Linked DNA regions of Homo sapiens: region 2 is linked to region 1. A link means that fine-mapping ties the variant in region 1 to the expression of a gene that starts in the linked region. Tissue or cell type: fibroblasts. Region 1 holds a variant in brackets; the other region holds the start of a gene. All regions are shown on one strand. Distances are between the middles of the regions.

Evidence for each region. PIP is the estimated chance that this variant, and not a neighbour inherited with it, causes the effect.
Region 2: TRMT9B starts here. The variant in region 1 is fine-mapped to the expression of TRMT9B in fibroblasts (GTEx, PIP 0.96).

What each region holds. Positions count from the first base shown.
Region 1 is chr8:12,995,758-13,006,999 of GRCh38, forward strand. TRMT9B (tRNA methyltransferase 9B (putative)) reads left to right here. Exons shown (of 5, transcript NM_020844.3): 3 at 10,445-10,599. The coding sequence starts at 10,446. All of the region lies in intron 4 of LOC124901889 (a long non-coding RNA gene), which reads right to left. Among named protein-coding and RNA genes, the nearest start is that of TRMT9B, 56 kb to the left of the region's middle. RefSeq lists a silencer at 10,343-10,637. The variant A/G (reference allele first, on the strand shown) is at 6,242.
Region 2 is chr8:12,940,720-12,951,961 of GRCh38, forward strand. TRMT9B (tRNA methyltransferase 9B (putative)) reads left to right here and starts at 4,954. Exons shown (of 5, transcript NM_020844.3): 1 at 4,954-5,247. RefSeq lists enhancers at 1,171-1,710, 10,148-10,648 and a silencer at 10,820-10,969.

The DNA of each region.
Region 1 (11,242 bases):
TAGACCCAAGTCATTGTTGTCTTAGGTTCTAAGGCTTTTAAATATTATAACATTTTTCAGAAAGATTTTATTCTCTGCAGACTAAAAAGCTCAGCAGATTTTTCCAATAACTGCACATATAAAGAGCCACATAAACAGTAGACTAAATATCACAGATGATCCACATGAGAGTAATAAATGAGGACACTAGTTTGTCCATACATTTTTCATAAGGTACTGAAATAACTGAAAATTGTCTTAACGAGTAACAGTAACCATGAAACAGCAAGATAATTAGAGAATGAAGGTAAGCAGCAATAGCAACCACCTGCTGCTACAAGCTGAGGATCATGTAGCCTCCTTCCTGGACCTTTACACAATTTATGTTCCCATCTATTTATTGAGATCAGTAATCCTCATACATTATTATAGTTGTGCTACTTGGAAGCTGTGGCTGGCACAATTCATCCTTAATTTCACTTTGAGTTATTGAGTAAAGCTATTCAATGTGTAATAAGATCACAAATATAAGGTAGGTAAAATGAATTTCCTTCCTCTCATCATACTGATGAGTCACTTACCTGGTGCCCTAACTGAAACAACTTCTTTACTGGGAGCAAATGGACTCTATTCTTGGCTGGTTACTGGATAATCTGGCATTAGACATTATCTCATTTAAGTTACTTATTTCTTCAGTTAGATTTCTTCTGAGGCAAAACTCTCTCAGCACTTTCTGTATATACTATGACATAATCTTATTGAATGGGGATACTGCTTTGACATTTCACCTGATCTTTGAACCCAGTGATCTCCAATTTCTAGCTGCCCAGAAGGCACTGACTGGATGGCATTCATCCCTCATGGGAATGGCAGAACACAGATGAGAGAGGATACTCTGCTCAGTTTTAAGTTCTAACATGGTTTAAAGTACATAACAAGGCAACTGCCTCAAAGCAAAAGGGGGTTTTAATTGAAATATACATGGACCAAAGTGCATATATCATAAATGTACAAATAAATGAATGAATTTTTCATAACCTGAGCGCCCTCATGTAACCCGAGCCCAGATCAAGAAACAGAACATTATCAGCACCCCAGGACCACCTCCCAACCCCCAGTGCTCCCTGCCAGCTGCTACCCCAGGCAGCCTCTATCCCACTTCTAATGGCCCACATTTGTTTTATCTGTTTTTGTACCTTCTTTATTTTATTTTATTTTATTTTATTTTATTTTATTTTATTTTATTTTATTTTATTTTATTTTATTTTATTTTTTATTTTCTTTGATCTATCTATGGGCTCATGTTTTTGTACTTTCCATAAACGGAATCCAACAGTGTGTATTCTTTTGTGGACTTCCCTTTTAATATGATATTTGTGGAATGTATATCATTTGGATGTTTGTCCCCTCCAAATCTCATGTTAAAATGTGACCCCCAATGTTGGAGGTGGGGACTATTGGGATGTGTTCGGGTTATGGTGGTGGATCCCTCAGGAATGGCTTGGCATCCTCCTTATGGTAATGGGTGACTTCTTGCTCTATCAGTTCACATGAGAGCTGGTTGTTTAAAGGAGCCTGGCATCTCCTCCCCTCTCTCTTGCTCCCTCTCTGACCTTGTGACACACGTGCTCCTCAGTCACCTTCCACCATGAGTAACAGCTTCCTGAGGCCTCACCAGGATCCAAGCAGATGCTGGTGCCATGCTTGTACAGCCTGTAGAACCATGAACCAAACAAACTGCTTGTCCTTATAAATTACCCAGGCTCAGGAGTTCCTTTACAGCAACACGAAATGGACTAATATAGGGACTGATCCATATTGTTGCATATGGTTGCAAACTTCCATGCTACCCTGGTAGCATTTCATTCTATGAATATACCACAATTTATTTGATCATTTTACTGATGATGGTCACATGTGCAGTTTCCAGATTTGTGCTACTTCGAAGAGTGCTTCTTTGGATATTCTAGCATATGTCTTTTGGTGAATATGGGTGTCCATTTCTTTCGGATATATGTATATACTTTTAAGAGTGGGGTTGCTGGGCCATAGGCTATGCATATGTGTAGCTTTAGTTGTTGCTGTCAGGCGGTTTTCCAAACAGATTGAAACAATTCACATTTCTTCCAGTGGTGTATTAGAACTCACCGATTCCATGTTTTCACCAACACTAGATATTCTTTGTGTTTTCCATTTTACCCATTCTTTTGTATAGGTGGTGGGATCCTATTGTGGCTTAAATTTGCGGTTCCCTGATACTAGTGAAGTTAAGCCCCTTTGTGTGTGTTTCCTGCCCGTCTCCTGACCATTATGAAGTGTCTGTTAAAGTCTCTCGCCCATTTTTCAATTGTGTTGTCTTCTATTACTCTGTGATTTGTAAGAATTGTTTATATTCTGGATACTACTCAATTGTCATCTGTATGTACTACGAATACTTCTTCACACTCTGGGTTGAATTTTCCTTCTCTTCATGGTGTCTTCATTTTAATATAGTCTACTTTATTTTTCCTCTTATGGTTAGCACTTTATATGACCCTTTGTAAGAAATTTTAACTTACTCCAAGGTCATGAGGATGTTCTGTATTTTCCTCTAAAAGCTTTATTGTTCTGTATGATAGAAAGAGGTTTTAATTCATAAATGTATGTCAGTATTTGGAGACAGAACTGTTCTAAAGCCACGTGTGTTTTCCATAGAGCTAAAACATAGAGGACTCACTACAGGCAAAAGTGTGGTACAGAAAGAAACTCAAGATAGAGGTAATAGAAGTTCCCATCACAAACAAATGAGAAATCCCTTCTGATGACAGGGCTAAGTGCTTACAGCCTATTACCCTGGCCTCTGTGCTAACTTCTTAGGAGGAGCAGGTATAAAAAGCACCGTCTTGAGGACATTTAGTTATAGCACCTCCTCCCTGGTGACAAGGAGCCACTCTTGGGGACAAAACAAAGCCTTCTTTCTCAGAGTTCACTAGATTTCTGTGGGTCAAGTACAGAGTGTCATCTCCTTGATGAGACAGTAGAAAAACCTTTTCCCTGGAAGCCTTTTCAGTTCCTCAGAATATTTTTACTATTTGCCTCTGGGTGTGAATATGTGCATAGCTTTCCAGTGATCATTAAGAAGCTGGAAAAACTTGGGAAAAAACCTTTTTACTTTTATTTGTCAACACATCAAATACTCAGAGTTGCCTTTGAAATTGTGGCTGTTGGATATATATGTTAATGTCCACCTCTCTATCCCTGTTTCTTTACCCAGAAACATGGCATTAAGAAAGATTGTTCAGGGGCTGGGCGCAGTGGCTCACGCCTGTAATCCTAGCACTTTGGTAGGCCAAGGCAGGTGGATCATGAGGTCAGATGTTCAAGACCAGCCTAACCAACAGGGTGAAACCCCGTCTCTAGTAAAAATACAAAAATTAGCCAGGCATGGTGGTACGTGCCTATAATTCCAGGTACTCAGGAGGCTGAGGCAGGAGAATCGCTTGAACCTGGGAGGCGGAGGTTGCAGTGAGCCAAGATCATGCCATCGCACTCCAGCCTGGGTGACAGAGGGAGACTCCATCTCAAAAAAAAAAAAAAAAAGAAAAGAAAAAAAAAAAGAAAGATTGTTCAGGGTGGGAGAAGATGGGAGGGGTGATTTATTGGGGGAAGGATATGGTCATTATCTTGAGTGTCTTGATGGTTTCACACATACATACACGCATACGCACACACATATGTATGTAAAAACATCAAATTATATACTTTAAATATATGCAGTTTGTTATATGTCAATTATACCTAAATAAAACTGTTAAAATATGATTTAAAAATTTAAAAGAAATATTGTTGAATTGGCTAGAGTTCCATCATTCATGAATTCACTAAACGTATTTAGACCTATTACATTTAGGGCCAGTGCTAGATATTATGGGCTAACCAAAGATGTGTATGAAATCTTGTTTCTTATTTAGAAGTTCAGAATCTAGTAGAAATACTTAAGCCATTATAATACTTTACAGCACATGACATATTTCAAGTGCTGTGGAATTAGGGAGTGTAGAGGTTATATTTCTTTGAGAAGGTGGAGAAGACTGTAGGTAGAAGTTGCCACTAGGCTCACAATATTAAGTTCAAAAAAGTAGGATGCAAAACTGTCCGGTTTTCTCTCAATTTTATTATAATATATCTCTACGAGAAAGAAAACTTTTAATCTTTATGAAGAAAAAAGGGGGAACTTATATGGTAACAAGTTGTCATCTAATAAAAACTGATGTATACTTTTCACTTTTTCATGATCTAGATATTCTACAGTTCATATGATGAACTGAGCTTTTTATTCCTTTTGGTGGGTGGGATTAGAATACCCATGATATCTCTCCATCAAGAGTTCTGAGGGACCCAGGCTGATGCCTCCAGGACAAGGAACATTTCATTGCAGTGATAAGGGATAGGGAACTTGGAAAGCAACACAGTGGGGTAATCCTGATCTTTTCAGATGACGTTTATGCCATAGCAAGTCACTTAGGGTTTATCTGAATTCAAGTAGGTAGAAAAATGTTAGCCTAATCACATGTCCAGGGAAGGAAAACTAAACATTTGTGACTTCTCAGTAGAACCCTGTTGCTAGTAGCAGGAATTGCCAATGTCCTTCTCTTTGTTTTTCTACCCTTTGGAAACATGCCAGGCCACTAACTCTCCTGTTAGTTTTCTGTCACTTTCTGTCCTCTCTTCCATCCTCCAAGAAATAAATGCTGGAAATAGGCAGAGTTTGTGGGGCAAGGGAAGGAACAAAGATGATTCAATGTCTGGGATCTCCTCTTCTGTGCCTACATCAACTTCCCCCAGCAAAGTTAGTTGTATCTTTGTCTACTCAGTCTCATTTATGTTTTTGTCATCACATTTACGATTTCTTTTGATTGCTAGCATTCAATTTTGGGGGTTTGTTTTAAGGTTACCTCGTAAGCTTTACAAGTTGCTTGAAAAGTAGCAATAAAGGTAAGATATTACAACACTATGTGTCAGCATCCTTGCACGCTAGTTATTTAAAGTGTAAAATAATCATTTCAAAATGTTAATTAAAAAAGCAGTTTCCCTGCCTTGGGAAAGGTGTGGTTGTAAGAAACAGAAGTGAGTTCAAGTGAAGAATATTTCAGGGCTAGAACAGGGTATGGATTTGAGATTCAAGGTTAGGAAATGAAGTACCTCAGGACGCAAGGCTGGTACTGTAAAATGAACAGGTTTCTTGGAGATGAGTGACCCTGAGCCCCTATCTAGAGCCTACATAGGGACTAGAACTAGAATATCATCTACTAGACTTCCCCAATCTTTCTGCCTTTCCCCCCACCATGTTATGAAGCATCACGGATTCTCATCTTGTTTTTCTTTCCCTACAGCTACATTTATTTTGCAGAAAAATATTCTTTTGCTTCATCCATATGTGCATGGCTAAAAATGGACTCCCTAACACAGACTCCAAGTGATCACAACCAACCACTTGTGGTCATCTGACTATTCAGGTCTTTTAGTTCAAATTCTCAAGACTGGGTCAGTCTCACCCATGGACTGGTTCCCTGTAGATCTGGTTTTCAACCTGGGTCCACTCAGTGAGGCGGGGATCCCTGGAAAGAGGAGGCACAAGGCTCAGAAGCAGGTTCTCTTGGATCGACAGTGATGAGCAACTCTGATGCGCATCCTTCTGACTTCCTAGTTAAAACGTTTACCGTCTCATACTTTTAGTCTTTTTATAAACCATCTTAGAAGTTATGATTTGTAGATAACATACTTCACTAAAACTACATGAATGAAAAAGGATGATCAGGAAAAATGCTTTGTTTTGGGGACATTCTTAAATTGGAAAACACTAAATTAACATTTCCACAGTGTCTTCTACAGAATATTATTTCCTAAAAAGACAAGAGGTGTTTAAAGACAGAAAGAGTATTATAGACCCAATAATTCTGAGAAAAAAGCGAGATTTTTGAAACATCAACCGGGACTCTTTTCTCCAAGATTTTTCAAAACTCATAGTGTGCTGGTGTGCATTTTGAATCTCAAAGGAGGGACACAATGTGAGGCTTTAAGTACTGACTTTTTATGTGGATTATTTTATGGGTCTGGAATTTGACAGCACACAGATTAGGAATCCTGGCTAATCCAAACCCTTTATCTCTCGCTTCATCTGGAAACCCGTGCTCTTGTTTTAGTACTAGTCTTATTAGCTTAGTCACACTTTCAAACTCACAAGGAATTTGCTTATATAAATAAAATTCATGTGGAAACTATT[A/G]TAGGAAATTTAAATCCGCAGCATTTAAAATTTAAATCTGCAGTGTTTATAAAGTTAACTGTAAAATATCAGAAAAACAAAATAGATTTATATTACTTATACACTTAAAAATAACTATCTTTTAGGTTACCCGATGGTAGTAGAGGCCATAGAAAACTTAGGGGAAGATCTTGGGGGTGCTGTTCAGATACTACAAATTCTGAGCTTGAAATTGAAGTCATTTTTAAATTGCAATTTGCAAGGAACCCAGTTTATGTCGGTTACCACTTAACATTTCCAAGTGCAACAAAGAAAAACTTGCTTGTTCTAGTGTTCTCTAAAACGTATTGCTTGATTGATTCCTTGAGAAAGGGGAAACGTAAATAGACTAAAATCTACTGAGATTTTGATTTAAATGAAAAGCACACAGTGTTTCTGTTTTTCTCTTGTGTGGGCAGTTATAGCCAGCCATATGTTTACTTCGTAAATTTCAGTTGAAGGTGCAACATAAGCTGTTTCAATTTGGGTGGAAGTTTAGTCAGACCTCACAAATTAGATTTATACTCAGTTAGGAGTTTGCTAGGATTTTTTGCAGGGGCTGTGGGTAGGTTCATACTGATTAAAGACAACCTATTACGTTTTAAGAGTAAATCCTGAATATCTGTTCCTTGAAACGGAAGGAATGATGGAATTATATTATCATCATTCGGTGATACTTGTAGTAATAATTGGGGCAAGAATCATTGGTAGATGCTAAAACTGGTGGGTGAGCAAATAAGAAACAATATTTGCATAGTCTCAAAGTCTCTCTCCATACAGGGAAGACACCGTCTTACCCAAGTACTTCCCACTTCCCAGGATAGGGGTAGAGGTGCGGGGACAGAGGCTGTCCAGGGACAGTATCTTCTCTCCAGTTACACTCCCATCTGCCAGTTTGCAGGTGTAGTGTCCCCTCCCTTCCCCAGCTCCTCAGGGTGATCACTCCCTCTGCTAACCAAAGCCAATACTACCCTCTGTACTCAGAGCCAGATTCCATTCTCACTATGTGTATTTATTTGATCATTTGCTGGGGGTCTGCTGTGTCCTAAGTGCTGGGGACTCAGTATTAAATAAGACAACTCCTTGTTCTCCAGAGTCTTCCAGCAGACTCTGCCAGAGAAAAATATCTTATCTAAATTCAACAATTACAGGACTATGTGATCCCTGTAGAGGTATGCATGGGATGCAATAGCTGATAGCCATCAGTAGGGCCAAATGAGTTCTTAAATGATTGAAAATACTTTCATACTGATGGGTAAAAGCCACAACCCGAGTCCCTGGCCACTTCCCTGGGATACCACTCACTCACATGCCAAAATAGAATAGAATAATTACAGGGTTAAGCCCAAAACGGGACCTGCTCTTGTGCTTTTCTTACTCCTTCCCTGTTGCCCTTATCCTGCCTGGAAGGTCAGGGAAGTCTTCCTGGAGGAGATGATGCCTTTTCCAAGAATGACTAGAATTTAGCCAGGTAAAGCATAGCATATGTTCAGGCCCCTGGATGAGAGGGAATGTGCCACCGCTGAGAAACAGTGGGTCATTGGGTATTATGGCTAATGCTGAGGAAAGATGGTGAGAAATAACCCTTAAGAGGTCTGGTGAGGCCAGATCGGAAAGAGCCTTATGTGCCCGCCTAAGCCAGCTGAACCCAATGGGACAAGCTATAAAATGCCTCTGAAGAAGTTGAAGGTAAGAACTGAGGGGGATAGTGTGGAGCAAGATGGCTAAATGGAAGGCTCCACTGATGGTGTGTCCCCACTCCGCCACCCTCCCCACAAGGACCAGAGTTAACACACAAAAAAAGCACCTACATAAGAACCAAAAATCAGGAGAGCGCTCACAGTGCCTGGTTTTGACTTCATATCACTAAAGGAAGCACAGAAGAGGGTGAGCAAGACAGTCTTGATATGCCCATGCCATCCCTCCTCCAACTCCCTGGCAGCAGCCATGTGCATGCAGAGAGAATCTGTGCTTAGGGGAGGGAGAATGCTGCGTTTGTGAAACACCGTATCGAACTCAGTGCTGCCCTGTCACAGTAGAAAGCAAAGCCATGTGGCTGAACTCAGCTGACAGCTGCCCACAGAGGGAGCATTTAAACCAGCCCTAGCCAGAGGGGAATTGCTGGTCCCAGCAGTCTGAACTTGAGTTCCGGCAGGCCTCACCACTGTAGGCTAAAGGGCTCTGGGGTACTAAATACACTTGAAAGGCAGTGTAGGCCCCAAGGACTGCAGCTCCTAGGTGAGTCCTCCTGCTGAACTGGCCTCAGAGCCCGTGGACCAGGTGGGGAGGAGGGAACGCCACTACTGAGACACCAGCTAGGGCTGCTAAGGGAGTGCTTGCACCACCCCGCTCCCAACCCAGGCTGCACAGCTCCTGGCTCCAAAAGAGCCCTTCCTTCTGCTTGAGGAGAGGAGAGGGAAGAATAAAGAGGATTTTGTCTTGTATTTTGGATACCAGTTCAGCTGCGGTAGGATAGGGCCCAGGCAGAGTCCTGAGGCCGTCTGTTCAGGCCCTACCCCCCAGATGATATTTCTAGACACACCCTGGGCCAGAAGGCAACCTGCTGTCTTGAAGGGAAGGACCTAGTCCTGTCAGGACCCATCACCTTCTGACTAAAGAGCCCTTTGGCCCTGAATAACCAGCGGTGATACCCAAGTAATACGCTGTGGGCCTTGGGTGAGACTCTGAGTCTTGCTGGCTCCAGATGCGACTTAGCACATTCCCATCTGTGGTGGCTATGGGGCAACACTCCTGCTTAAGAAAAGTGGAGGGACAAGGAAAGGGGACTTTGCCTTGCACATTAGGTACCAGCTCGGCCACAGTGGGGAAGGGGTCTTTGGAAAGGGGAGGGAAGAGTGGGAAGGGCTGCATCTCATGGCTTGAGTGCCAGCTCAGCCACAGTACACTAGAACACCAAGTAGACTTCTAAGGTTTTTGACTGCAGTCCCTGGCTCCCAGACAGCACCTCTAGACCTGCCCACGGCCTGGGGGAACTTGCTACAGAGGTTACACTGAGCCGAGATCATGCCACTGCACTCCAGCCTGGGCGATACAGCGAGACTGCATCTCAAAAAAAAAAAAAAAGAAAAAGAAAAGAAAAGAAATCCTGTCATTCGCAATAACATGGATGGATCTGGAGGTCATTATGTTAGCTGAAATCAGTCAGGCACAGAAAGACAGGCTTCATATGTTCTCACTTATTTGTGGCAGCTAAAAATTAAAATAATTGAACTCATGGTTATAGAGAGTAGAAGGATGGTTACGAGAGGCTGCAAAGCGTAGCGGGGAGGTGGGAGGGAAGTGGAGATTGTTAATGGGTACAAAAAACAGAATAAGACCTAGTATTTGCTAGGACAACAGGGTGACTATAGTAAAAAAAAATTTATTTGTACATTTTTAAATGACTAAAAGAGTATATTGGATTGTTTGTAACATAAAGGATAAGTGCTCGAGGTGATGAACACCCCATTCTCCCTCATGTGATTATTACGCCTTGCATGCCTGTATCAAAACATCTCATGTACTCCGTAAATATATACACCTACTATGTACCCACAAAAATTAAAAATAAATAAATAAGAAGCAACACAACCAGTCCTATATTTTACAAAAATAATTATGACGTAATTGAAATTGGGAAAAGCATTGAATGGCAAGAGAACCGTTTTGCCAGCTGTTGAAGTAATTCAGTAAAGAAATGGGCACCTATACTAAAATAAAAGCAGTACTGATACAGAGACATGGCTGGAACCCAAACACTAAAAAGGGAGAATTAATAGCGCTTTGCTATTGGGTTGAAATGGTGAGCTACCTGTTATGAAATTTTGAAATCTATTTAGCATCAGATACAATGGTCTTATCCAAAGTAAACCATTTGGTAAGAATTTTGGCTATGCTTCCAAAATTAAGAATTCATCTTGTACAGGAACTTATTACACAATAATTAGCTCTTTCTCAAAATTGTTTTCCTTAACATGGCAGGTAAAAACCATGCATTTGCTAGTCTTTTGGCTACTATGGCGAGGTTATAGTGAAGGTATTGTTCTTTGCAGCTTATAAGAAAGTGTGCAAACAGCATGAGTTTGCAGTTGTAGGCTCCAGATTTTAGGAAATCTGCATCCTCCTTCAGCCATCTATGGTGCATAGGCTGACCTGCATGCCTTGGGTTGGTCCTGTTTTCTCCAGGATGGATCATGAAGCCGCCCAGCTGGAGAAGCAGCATGTGCACAATGTGTACGAGAGCACAGCCCCTTACTTCAGCGACCTGCAGAGCAAAGCCTGGCCTCGTGTCCGCCAGTTCCTGCAAGAGCAGAAGCCAGGCAGCCTCATCGCTGACATAGGTAACCAGGCAGCCTCATCGCTGACATAGGTAACCAGGCAGCCTCATCGCTGACATAGGTAACCAGGCAGCCTCATCGCTGACATAGGTAACCAGGCAGCCTCATTGCTGTCATAGGTAACCCAGCACTGGGCCGTGTAGCATGAAATACCTTCCATTGAGCCTTTGCTTTTCACATTGATTTTTCATTTTTGTTCTAATAGGAATCCTGAAATTGCACCCTTGGCATGCCAGTACCTAGAATATTCATTTTACAGCAGAAACTCGAGACAGTCAAGTCAGCAGCAAGTAAAAAACTTTCTCAAACTTTTATTTTATTTTTATTCTTTTGAGATGGAGTTTCACTCTTGTCAACCAGATTGGAGTGCAGTGGTGCAATCTCAGCTTGCTGCAAACTCCGCCTCCCAGGTTCAACTGATTCTCCTGCCTCAGACTCCCAAATAGCTATGATTACAGGCACCCGCCACCACGCCCAGCTAATTTTTGTATTTTTAGTAGAAACGGGGTTTTGCCATGTTGGCCAGACTGGTCTCAAACTCCTGACCTCAGATGATCCATCTGTCTCGGCTTCCCAAAGTGCTGGGATTACAGGCTTGAGCCACCGTGCCTGGCCTCAAACTTTACCTTTAGACAGTGGCTCTTCA
Region 2 (11,242 bases), 55 kb before region 1:
GAAAAGAGCCACTGTCCAAAATCATGGATGAATTCTCTCCTGCAATTAAGAAAGTGATGGGCCATCGGAGAAATGCAAATCAAAACCACAGTGAGATACCATCTCACACCAGTTAGAATGGCTATCATTAAAACGTCAGGAAACAATAGATGCTGGAGAGGATGTGGAGAAATAGGAACACTTTTACACTGTTGGTGGGACTGTAAACTAGTTCAACCATTGTGGAAGACAGTGTGGTGATTCCTCAAAGATCTAGAACTAGAAATACCATGTGACCCAGCCATCCCATTACTGGGTATATACCAAAAGGATTATAAATCATGTCGCTTTAAAGACACATGAACACGTATATTTATCGCGGCACTATTCACAATAGCAAACACTTGGAACCAACCGAAATGTCCAACAATGATAGACTGGATTAAGAAAATGTGGCATATATACACCATGGAATACTATGCAGCCATAAAAAAACGATGAGTTCATGTCCTTTCTAGGGACATGGATGAAGCTGGAAACCATCATTCTGAGCAAACTATCGCAAGGACAGAAAACCAAACACTGCATGTTCTCACTCATAGGTGGGAATTGAACAATGAGAACACGTGGACACAGGAAGGGGAACATCACACACTGGGGCCTGTCGTGGGGTTGGGGGAGTGGGGAGGGATAGCATTAGGAGATATACCTAATGTAAATGACGAGTTAATGGGTGCAGCACAGCAAGATGGCACATGGATACATATGTAACAAACCTGCACGTTGCGCACATGTACCCTAGAACTTAAAAGTATAATTTAAAAATAAATAAATAAATAAATAAATAAATAAATAAATAAATAAATAAAGGACGAGCCAAGGAAACTTCCCACCCGTCTGGCCCTGAGCAGTGACTTCAACCTCTGTGCTATTTCACCTGCAATCTTCTCCTGCGAATGGCATTTTCTCCCGTTTTGTTGTTTTTGTTTCCTGATGGTAATTTATTTTTCTTTTAGACAAACTACAAGAAAAAAATAACTTCTCTGACCTTTAGTGCCTGTTTTGACTGCTCAGTTGGATTTTTAAAATGCTTCTAGTCATCTTTCTACTGATAATTGTTATTTGTGGCAACCTCATGGAAGAAGCTAAGGCACAAAATATAATTTTAAAGCGTTTACTTGAGCCAAGATGAGGACAGCTGCCTGAAAGACTCAGACCCAAGTAACTTTGGATATGAGCTTCATTCAACCTTTCTTACAAGCAGGTTTTTAAAGGCAACAAGGCAGACAAGTTGTCAGGAATTCCCATTGGTTAACAGAAATGACAATGATTAGTAATTAGCTATATATTTTTGAACTATAGGATATTAGTTATGGTGTCCAGTGCATGGCATTGTTAGGTTAATTTACAGCTACTTGTGGCGACAGTCAGTCTAGAGCAAGCAGATTCAAGAGATGATTAGCTTAGCTCCAGGGGAGAAGTGGGGCCTGACTGCTGCCTCATTCCCTTGCCTCTCTGGGCCTGATCATTTACAGGAGGCTTGCATTCCTCGGATAAAGTTTCTTTTCTTTCTCATTTGCTTATTCTGTTTCCTTTTCTTCTTTCACATTAAATGGGAAGAAGAAAGTACAAATTCCAGTTCAACAGGTATGTGCAGTCTTATGCCGAAACTAGGACGCCATTTTCCTGGATTATCCATGAAAACATTTTTTCATGGTCTCCAAGGCGGATTCCCTGTTCTGGTCTCAGCTGGATCCTTCAAATAAATTGGATGAAACCAATCTTTGCCATCTCTTTCTCGCGTTATTTATACCTTGACTTGACTCCTATTCCAAACATAACCAGTTTCATCACCAGTACAGAAGGTGACACCATCGGAGCAGGAAAGAGAAATAAGAGCTGCAAAGCCTGTGTTGTGAAAATACTAGGCTCATTCTTTGTCCAAACACCTGAAAAGACTGTGTATTCTGCCATTTGCCAAAGTACATTGTCATATCACATCAAAGAACCCCAGCCCAGGAGGGGACATTGAGGTGTCTGACACGACTTCCTGTCTGATGTATGGGTACCCTCTACAAACATCACCAGTAAACGAGCTGCCCTCTTCCTCTGCCGATCCAGAGACAAAGAGTTGTGCCTCTTGCAAAAGCTCTGCTTTTATGCAGTTCAAACTTTAGAAATCTCTTCCTCTAGTTGAGTCTAAATGTTCTTCCCCGTAACTTGCATTCACTGGTCCAAGTCTGCCCTCTGGAGCATCTCAGAATAAGTCTCCTTCCTCTTCCATCTCACAAGTTCTTCCTAAATTTTTCGGATGAATTAAATAGAAGCTTCTACCAACTATTAACTCCATACCCAGCCTTTTGAAATGCAGCTTGGAAAATGGGAAATTTTCCTACTGAACCTTTAGATCATAAATGGATGCAATAAAGAAAGCACCAAATTCCTTCTTTATTTTACAACTCTACAAATCTCTAGGGATGACATGAGCACAGGTGAGTGCACAAGTACACACAATGCACACACACACACACACACACAGAGTGACCCTATTTCTCCATTTTTCCTAGAGCTGACTTTCACACAAACCCAAGATTACCATTACGAATAGGTAGATATAATCAAGACACTTAGCCAGGGAGCCAACATTTGCCTTCACCTAACAAACAGAATGTAAATACAATAGGTAATTTATTTTTGACATAGACATAAAATAGCTTTTTACAATGGAATGATTTTCACTCCAGATCTAAGCAAAAATGCATTTTCTTTTAAGAATCGTGGGTGATCTCAGTGATTATCTGACTCAATGCTCTCTCTTTTTAGATAAGTAATTTAAGGCCCAGAGGTCTTGATTAAGATCAGTGTCACAGAACTCGGGTTATTTGAACTCTGAGAGGAAGGCTGAAGAAGATTAGTATTGTCTTGCTTGCTCTCAGAAGATAAGAGCTGTGCTTTGACAATTGCAAATAGTTTTCGAACAAAATTTTCTTATGGCACAGCTTTCTGAAACTATTTTACAATGCGTTAACTTCTAGTAACATACATTAGGATCTAATCTTAAGTATTAATTTATTTGAAAATATCTCAAAACTTGTATCCCCCAAAAAGTTCAAAATATATCTCCAGAGAAAAATAAAAACCAACTATCTCAAAATTCACCCTTTGTTTTCCCCAGAATCAAATCTCTAGGGATGACACGAGCACAGGTGAGTGCACAAGTGCACATAATGCACACACACACACACACACACACACACAGAGTGACCCTATTTCTCCATTTTTCCTAGAGCTGACTGTCATACAAACCCAAGATTACCATTACTAATAGGTAGATCTCATCAAGACACTTAGCCAGGGAGCCAACATTTGCCTTCACCTAAAAAACAGGATGTAAATACAATAGGTAATTTATTTTTGACATAGACATAAAATAGCTTTTTACGGTGAGAATGATGAGGTCATTGTGACTTCTACACTTGAAACAATTGGACTTTCTCGTACTTTTGCACTTGAGAATTTAAAATAATAATAAAGAGAACGAAAGAGTACTATGTTGGTACTGCTCCTCACATATTTCATTGGTAAGAGCAGTGATGAAATAGCAATAAAATTTATGAGACAAGAGTTGTGGCTATAAATAGGGATATGCTTTGCTCGCAAACTGCATAGAATCCCCTTCCCTTTAAAAAATATATAGAAGAGGCCAGGTGTGGTGGCTCATGCCTGTAATCCCAGCGCTTTGGGGGGCCAAAGTGGGTGGATCACCTGAGGTCAGGAGTTTGAAACCAGCCTGACCAACATGGTGAAACCCTGTCTCTACTAAAAATACAAAAAAATTAACCAGGCCTGGTGGCACGCGCCTGTAATTCCAGCTACTTGGGAGGCTGAGGAAGGAGAATCACTCGAACCTGGGAGTCAGAGATTACAGTGAGCTGAGATTGCACCACTGCACTCCAGCCTGAGGGACAGAGCAAGTCTGCCTCTCTCAAAAAAAAAAGTATATATATATATATATATATATATATGAAAATAAAATTCCATCACCTAGAGAAAATCACTAGTCACATTTTTGTATGGTTGTCCAGCATTTTCCCCTACATATATGTAAATATACTATATAATGTTAAAATATTGGGGTGAAACTGCTTTTTATTTAACACTGCATTGTATCTCCAGGTCATTAAATTGTCTTCAGGATCATGGCTCTGCATTTTTTAACATGTAGTTGCTCCCTTATTTATATAACACATTCTCTGTTGGTGAAATTTATTGTATTTTTTTGCAGTTTTTCTTTTCCTACCATGACAAATAAGCTCATCTTTTCCAGTCCTTGTTCATTCAAAGCTGGAAACAAACAACACACACACCCAAATCAGACCTGAGATTCTATGCACAAAAGTGCTTCTTGAAACAAATTATCTAATAGTATTGTAAAAAGAAAAAAAAAGAGATAAAATAAGCCAAGTGATATGTGTCACTCAGTGTTCCAGCGAAAAGCTGACTCCAAAAATTACGTGATCATAATAGCAGAATGATGAAAGAGTGACAGACAAAAGGTAAGAGCATGAGGATGAAGAGGTAATACTCAAACAGCTTTGGAAATGGAGAGGAAGCTGGCGAATGACACAAAGGACAGCTGGAGGATGAACCAGTTTCCCAAGGGGCAAAAGAAACAATGTTGTTTGACATCTTCAGCAAACATTCCAAACTGTAGGGAAGAGGGATGATGGGTTTGTGTTGGTGATAACAGCAAAGTATTAAAGCATGCCTAAAAACTTTCACCATAAAGCAACAATTATTCTTGGTAATGCTACCAGGATAACAAGTTTCTACATGTTGTCATGCTGGCAAAGAAAATAGGGTGTATTTAGAGATTAGATGCCCCATGGACATGTGGTCATGGAAACAAAAGCAAACAGCTAACGTGGCTATGTGTTGAGGTCAGTATTTGAGGGAACATCCGGTGTGTGTTTTATTCAGTATTGTGTAGTACAGAAAAGATCACACATGTATATGTCAGAAGTAGATGCACATGTTCTTTTGGCTTTTTTTCTTTGTTTTATTCTTTTTTCATTTTTTGTGTTTTTTGTTAGTTTGTTTTGAATTTTTTTTCTTGATGCATATGTTCCTTCAACTTATTCAGTACTTCCATGTGCAGGGCTCTGGACTAGACTTTCAGGATCTAAGGCTGAATCCTACACAGTCCTCCCTCTGGGAAAGTGATGAAACCTGTGAGCTCTCCTAGCAACTCTGCAGTCTTCCTTCAAGGTATGTGTTGCAATTTGGGGTTGCACATTTTAGTTGTGATATTTGTGATTAGTTGATTAATGTTTGTCATCCCACGAGACTATAAGTGCCATGAGGGTAGATATCTTATCTGTTTTGCTCCCCATTGCTTTTCTCACAGACTGCTCAGCAATGAATCTTTGTTGAATAAAATAATACTTTATACAAAGGTTAGTGATAAATGTAAGAAGCATCTAGATCAAGAACTGATACATTCTTAGGACAGAAAGATTAATCTAGACAATAGCTTTTTGTCTGGAATTATCTTTTATGGAAGAGACGGCCTTGGCAATCAGAAGAGCAGATTAAGCAATTAGTGTAATCATCTAGGTGGGAAGTAATGGGACATAAAGAACTAGAATAGAAACAATAAGAAGGGAGCAGAGTTGATAAATAAAAGCAGTACAGATACAAAATTGTCAGACGGTGGTCACCCATGGGCTATGAAGGGCAAGAAGAAGCAGAGTCTAAGAATGTGCCAGGTGACTGGGAGGACGGAGATTGTAGAAGAAAGAAAAGGGCAGCTGCTTTAGGTGCACGGAGGGCGAAGGACCTCAGGTTCGAATGTGTTGATGTCACCCTGGTGGAGATGTCAAGCAAGATGAGAGCATGGGATCTGCAGGTTTATGAGAAGACCAATTCAGAGAAACAGAATTTTGAGAAATCTACACAGCGTTTTTCCTTGCAGTTAGAAAGGTGGATGAGGTTGTCTAGGGAGATTATATAGAGAGAAAAGCAGAGGACCAAGGACAGGTGCTTGAGAAATGATGAGACTTGGCAGGACTACTTTTTTAAAAGTTCAGGAAGAAAGAGAAGAAGTGGCATTTCTCTTTTTGGTGCATAAAACCCTATAAGAGAAGAAACCATCCTATTCCCAATGCCAGGAAGTTCCCTATGTACCTTGAGAAGGTCTTCCAGGTTTCAGAGGTGTGGAAGATATCAGTTCCTTGGATAAAGGCAGCAGCTACACACTTTCTAGCAGCAAAATGGCTGAAGAACTGAAGGGTTTAGGATTTAGGAGATGGCTACTGGGACTCCAGCCCGTGAACATCCCAAAATGACAAAGACAGCTCTTGGTTAGCATGTCTGTCTCTAAATTGTGCTGACTAATAAACAGCTGTGAGCTCTTTGATTCTCAGTCCATTCTGACTGGGTCACTGTGGGGAATCCTTTAAAACCAATGAGGCCATAAAGCTTGAGCTTTGCCTATCCCTGTTGTTGGAATATTTTGTCTCCAGTCTCCTAAAGATCAGTCTGAGAGACTGGAACACACCTCACAATTTCTTCCTGCAATCTGAAGTTAAGCTCACCCGGGTCTACCATTCAGCCTGGTGATGATTCCACTTCCTTATGCATCAAGATGTTATCATGCTAAACTAGCTAAAACCACTAAAAAAATATGGGATGACTTGGAAAGGTGGAGAAAAGTGGGTAAAAATACAGTAATTTTTTTGGTAAGTCTCCATTAAGCTAATAATAGGTAAGCACCCTCAATGGCTAAGAGCCAGTACCTTAGACCACGTCCTTGAATAAAATAGATGGTCAAGGCTGAAGTGAATGAAATGGTGACATAAGCATCATGCAGCACATTTTGAGGCTTATGGCAACACATGCATATTAATGCAAATATGTGCATTGAGTTCTAAGTGCTAAGGACTGTGATAGCCAATGAGGATAAGTAAAATAATGGTCAAAAGCTTTAGGAAAAGAACTTACGTGAATTCCTTACTTAAATGCCATAACTTAAGAGACTTCAGGTGTGCAGTATTTATTACATAAGCTGGAGAAATTTCATGCTTTGCTAGGCAACAGCCTTGTAGTCCACAGGACATGCTAGATAGCTCCTTTGGTTGATTGAATTGGTCACATTTGGAAAGTGTGCAGCCTATGTATAAGGAAGCATTGGGGCTGCCTTGCTCAGAAACAGGCAGTGAGTAAGGCAGGCATTCAAGGAATCATGGCCGGCCATCTGTAGCCTTAAGAGGTGTGTGCCAGACCCAGGGAGTTGACTAATAAAGAAACTGAGTTAACTGAGAAAGGTCATAATAATATTATATAGTACTGTTGCTCCTTGACTTACGATGGGGGTTACATCCTAATAAACCCATTGTAAATGGAAAGTGTTGTAAAATGCATTTAACACACCTAACCTACTGAACATGATAGCTTGGTTTAGCTTAGCCTTAAAATGTGCTCAGAACACTTACATTAACCTGCAATTGGGCAAAACCATCTAAGACAAAGCCTATTTTATAATAAAGTGTTGAATATCTCATGTAATTTATTGAATCCTGTAGTAAAAATGAAAGACAATGGTTGTATGAGTACTAGAAGTATAACTTCTTGTGAATATGCATTGCTTTCAAATCATCATAAAGTTGAAAAATTGTAAATGAACCATCGTAATTCAAGGAACATCTGTATATATAATATATATAATATATTCTGTTATATATAAATATATGTATGTATATAACACATAATACAATAATTTATATTATATAAATATATTAAAATATATAATACATGTGAATATATATTCATATTGCATATATATTTACATTGCATATGAATATATAATATATAAGTATATAAATTATATGCATGATATAATAATAAAATGTAATGATAAAGAAACTTAGTTAACTAAGCAACACACAGTGAAGTTAAGTGTAACATTAGAAAAAAACAGAAGGCCAGGCACGGTGGCTCATGCCTGTAATCCCAGCACTTTGGGAGGCCAAGGCGGGTGGATCACGAGGTCAGGAGATCGAGACCATTCTGGCTAACACGGTGAAACCTCATCTCTACTAAAAATACAAAAACTTAGCCGGGCATGGTGGCAGGCGCCTGTAGTCCCCGCTACTTGGGAGGCTGAGGCAGGAGAATGGCGTGAACCTGGGAGGCGGAGCTTGCAGTGAGCCGAGATCGCACCACTGCACTCCAGCCTGGGTGACAGGGCAAGACTCCGTTTCAAAAACAAACAAACAAAAAACCAGAAAAACACGTGTTCAACGTTTCATAGTTGTCTAATTTCTGTTGAGACTATGGCCAACACACTTTATAATTCTTCCTCAGAGAAAACGTATTGTTTCTACATAGACTCTACTTATTAATAACAATCTTATGTGTGGCATCACTGGCCTGTTTGTATTGTTTTCTTTTTCTTTTCTTTCTTTCTTTTTTTATATACAAAAATCTCCATTCTAAGAACTCAAGTTAGGAAATGCCATAGGATTGGTTATGACTACCGAGAGTAAAAATCCACTGAAATTTTAAAAAACTGAAAAACGTTAAACCTCACAAATAATGAGAAAATAATGCAATAAACCCCCATGTGTACACCCAGCATCAGCAACTGTCAATATTTTGACAGTCATTTTTTATCCTTTCCTCCTTTTTGCTGAGATGTGAAAGTGAAATTCTCTGGTACAAAAATAACATAAATGGCTTAAAAGTCTAGCTATGTTTCTCTGGTGTACAAATTTTCTTTACAGTACATTTTTCTTTCCTTTCCCACAACCATTACCCAAATTCTACTGGTGGTCACTGAAATGCCGCTTATGATGGCCTCAACTAGAAAAATCTCTTTATTTTTCTACCTGCCTCCAAACAAGAAAGAAGTTGGTAACTCATGTCATAGTTCACAAGTCTCTAGGGATTCTACATGTCTGCTTCAAGCCGTCAGTGAACTTTCAGAAAACAAATGCAAATATTTTACATTTGTTTATTATATAAGGGGGTTTCAAAGCTTCTATCAACATTTTCATAGGGGCCTATTACCTACAAAAGGTTAAGAATCTCTGCCTCTATTATGTCTTGAAAGCATATCAAATATACTTTCTCACTTCCACTCCCTAGTTAATTCTATTTATTTATTTACTTATTTTGAGATAGGTTCTCTGTCACCCAGGCTGGAATGCAGTGGTGCAAGCACAGCTCACTGCAACTTCAAGCTTCTGGGCTCAAGTGACCCTCCTGCCTCAACCTCCTGAATGGCTGGGATCATAGGCATGCACCACCACGCCCAGCTAATGTTTTGTATTTCTTTCAGAAATGAGGTTTCACTATGTTGCCCAAGCTGGTCTCAAACTCCTGGCCTCAAGCGATCCTCCCACCTCAGCCTCCCAAACTGCTGGAATAACAGGCATGAGCCACCTCACCTAGTCCTTAGCCAATTTTTTATATCTAAATCAGACATTGGACACCACTTCCAGGATGCCTTCCCTGACAATGTCACCTATAACTGATTTCCCTTATGTTTTCCTACAAAAGTTAAGGTAGGTTACTTTCCTGTTTATCACAGTCTTTCAATCACTGGACGAGTATTTATCAGGTCCTACTATTTGCCAGGCACTATCCTATACTTTAGGTATGCTTTGTCTCCTAATGCACTGTTAGAAGAGGACAAGGAACATCACAGTATCCAATACGTCTTCTGTGTCCGAAGACATATTGTAGTTGTAGCTCCAGTGAATGGAAGCAAGGATGAGCTGCTGCATTTCTGTAGCTGGCATTCAGCTCAAGAATACGTAAAACCAGACTCGTGGTTTTTTCTTTCTTTCTTTCTTTCTTTCTTTTTGAATGTGAGGCCTTTACAGAAAAAGAAAATGTCAGTCTGATTATCCAGGGCATGAGGATAAAGAGAAGCCCAAACAAAGGTTTCCCCCACTCCACCCCACCCAATATACTGTGGCACTAGAAAACGATTCCAGAATCAGAAACTATATGCTGACGTCCATTAGCCCTCTTAGTAGCACCTGAAATAGACCAGCGTCTATGTGAGACCTGTAGTTGTGTCCTCACAAATAACCTGTTATAGACCAGCGTCTATGTGAGACCTGTAGTTGGGTCCCCATAAATAACCTGAACTGGAAACAACAGCTCGACATGAACTCTGCCCCCTACGCTGGGGATCAGGAGCACGAACCTCTATACAAAGGGCGGCAGAGCGGTTACTAAATGTGCTCATTTTTCGTCACTAAGAACGTGCATTTTTAAAGTGCATAGATCCCTGATGATAACGGAGTTGTTTGATAATAGGCGGTTGAAGATACTATTACGTTAGGGACCTGGAAGAAAGTAGTTAACGCTATTGTCATAGAAGCAATGGGGGGAGGAAAGGTTTGTGTCCAGTTTTGGGCAAAAACTTCTAAGTTCCACCCCGCCTTCTGATGGATGCTTTTTTGATGGGGCTCGTTTTGCAAAACTCAGCAGATTAGGCATGTTGTGTAGTGGAATGATTTGGAGCGTCTAAGCCGTGGCACCCTACTTAACCCCCCCATCTCCAGTTATCCCAATGAACCGACCCCGAGGGGGCATTTCCGCTGAAGTCCGGGGCTGTAAAAAATTAAGTGAGAAGAGCCGCGCTAAAGCCAAGCGTCGTCGTCACCCAAGGTACTGCGCTGATGCGCTGCGGGCCGACCAGGTGCTCCCGCCGGGGCGTCTTCTCCTACGCAGGAAGGGCCACGCCGAGAGAGGCAGGCAACAAGGGCACGGCTGGAGGCCGGAAGGTCACCCCGTCCCCGGCGGGGCGGGCGCGGCCCAGCCTCACTTCCCGGGCACGTTCGGGCGGGGCGATTGCAGGGAACGGGGCGGGGAGGCGACAGTCCCCGGCTCCGCCGCGCGCCAGCCCGCCTTCGCTGCCCGGAGGCGCCGCAGGCCTGGGTTCCCGGACAGCTGAGCCCGAGCGCCGCCTCCCGAAAGGTGAAGGCGGCCCGGGGAGGCGGGGACGGTGACGGGGGCGGGGGCCGCGGGCGGTCTCCCGACGGCTGTCGCGGGGCCAGCCCAAAGCCCCCGATCCCCGGTAGCTGCGCTTCCCGCGCGGGGCGCCGGAGTAGGGCGGGCCAAGCTGGCCTGCGGCCGCGGCGGGAAGAAGGGCTAGCGAAGCACCCCCGACCGGGCCCAGGCGCCGGACGCCGGGGGGCGCCTCGCTGCAACTTCTCTTTGGAAGCCCCGACACGAGCCCCGGCCCGCG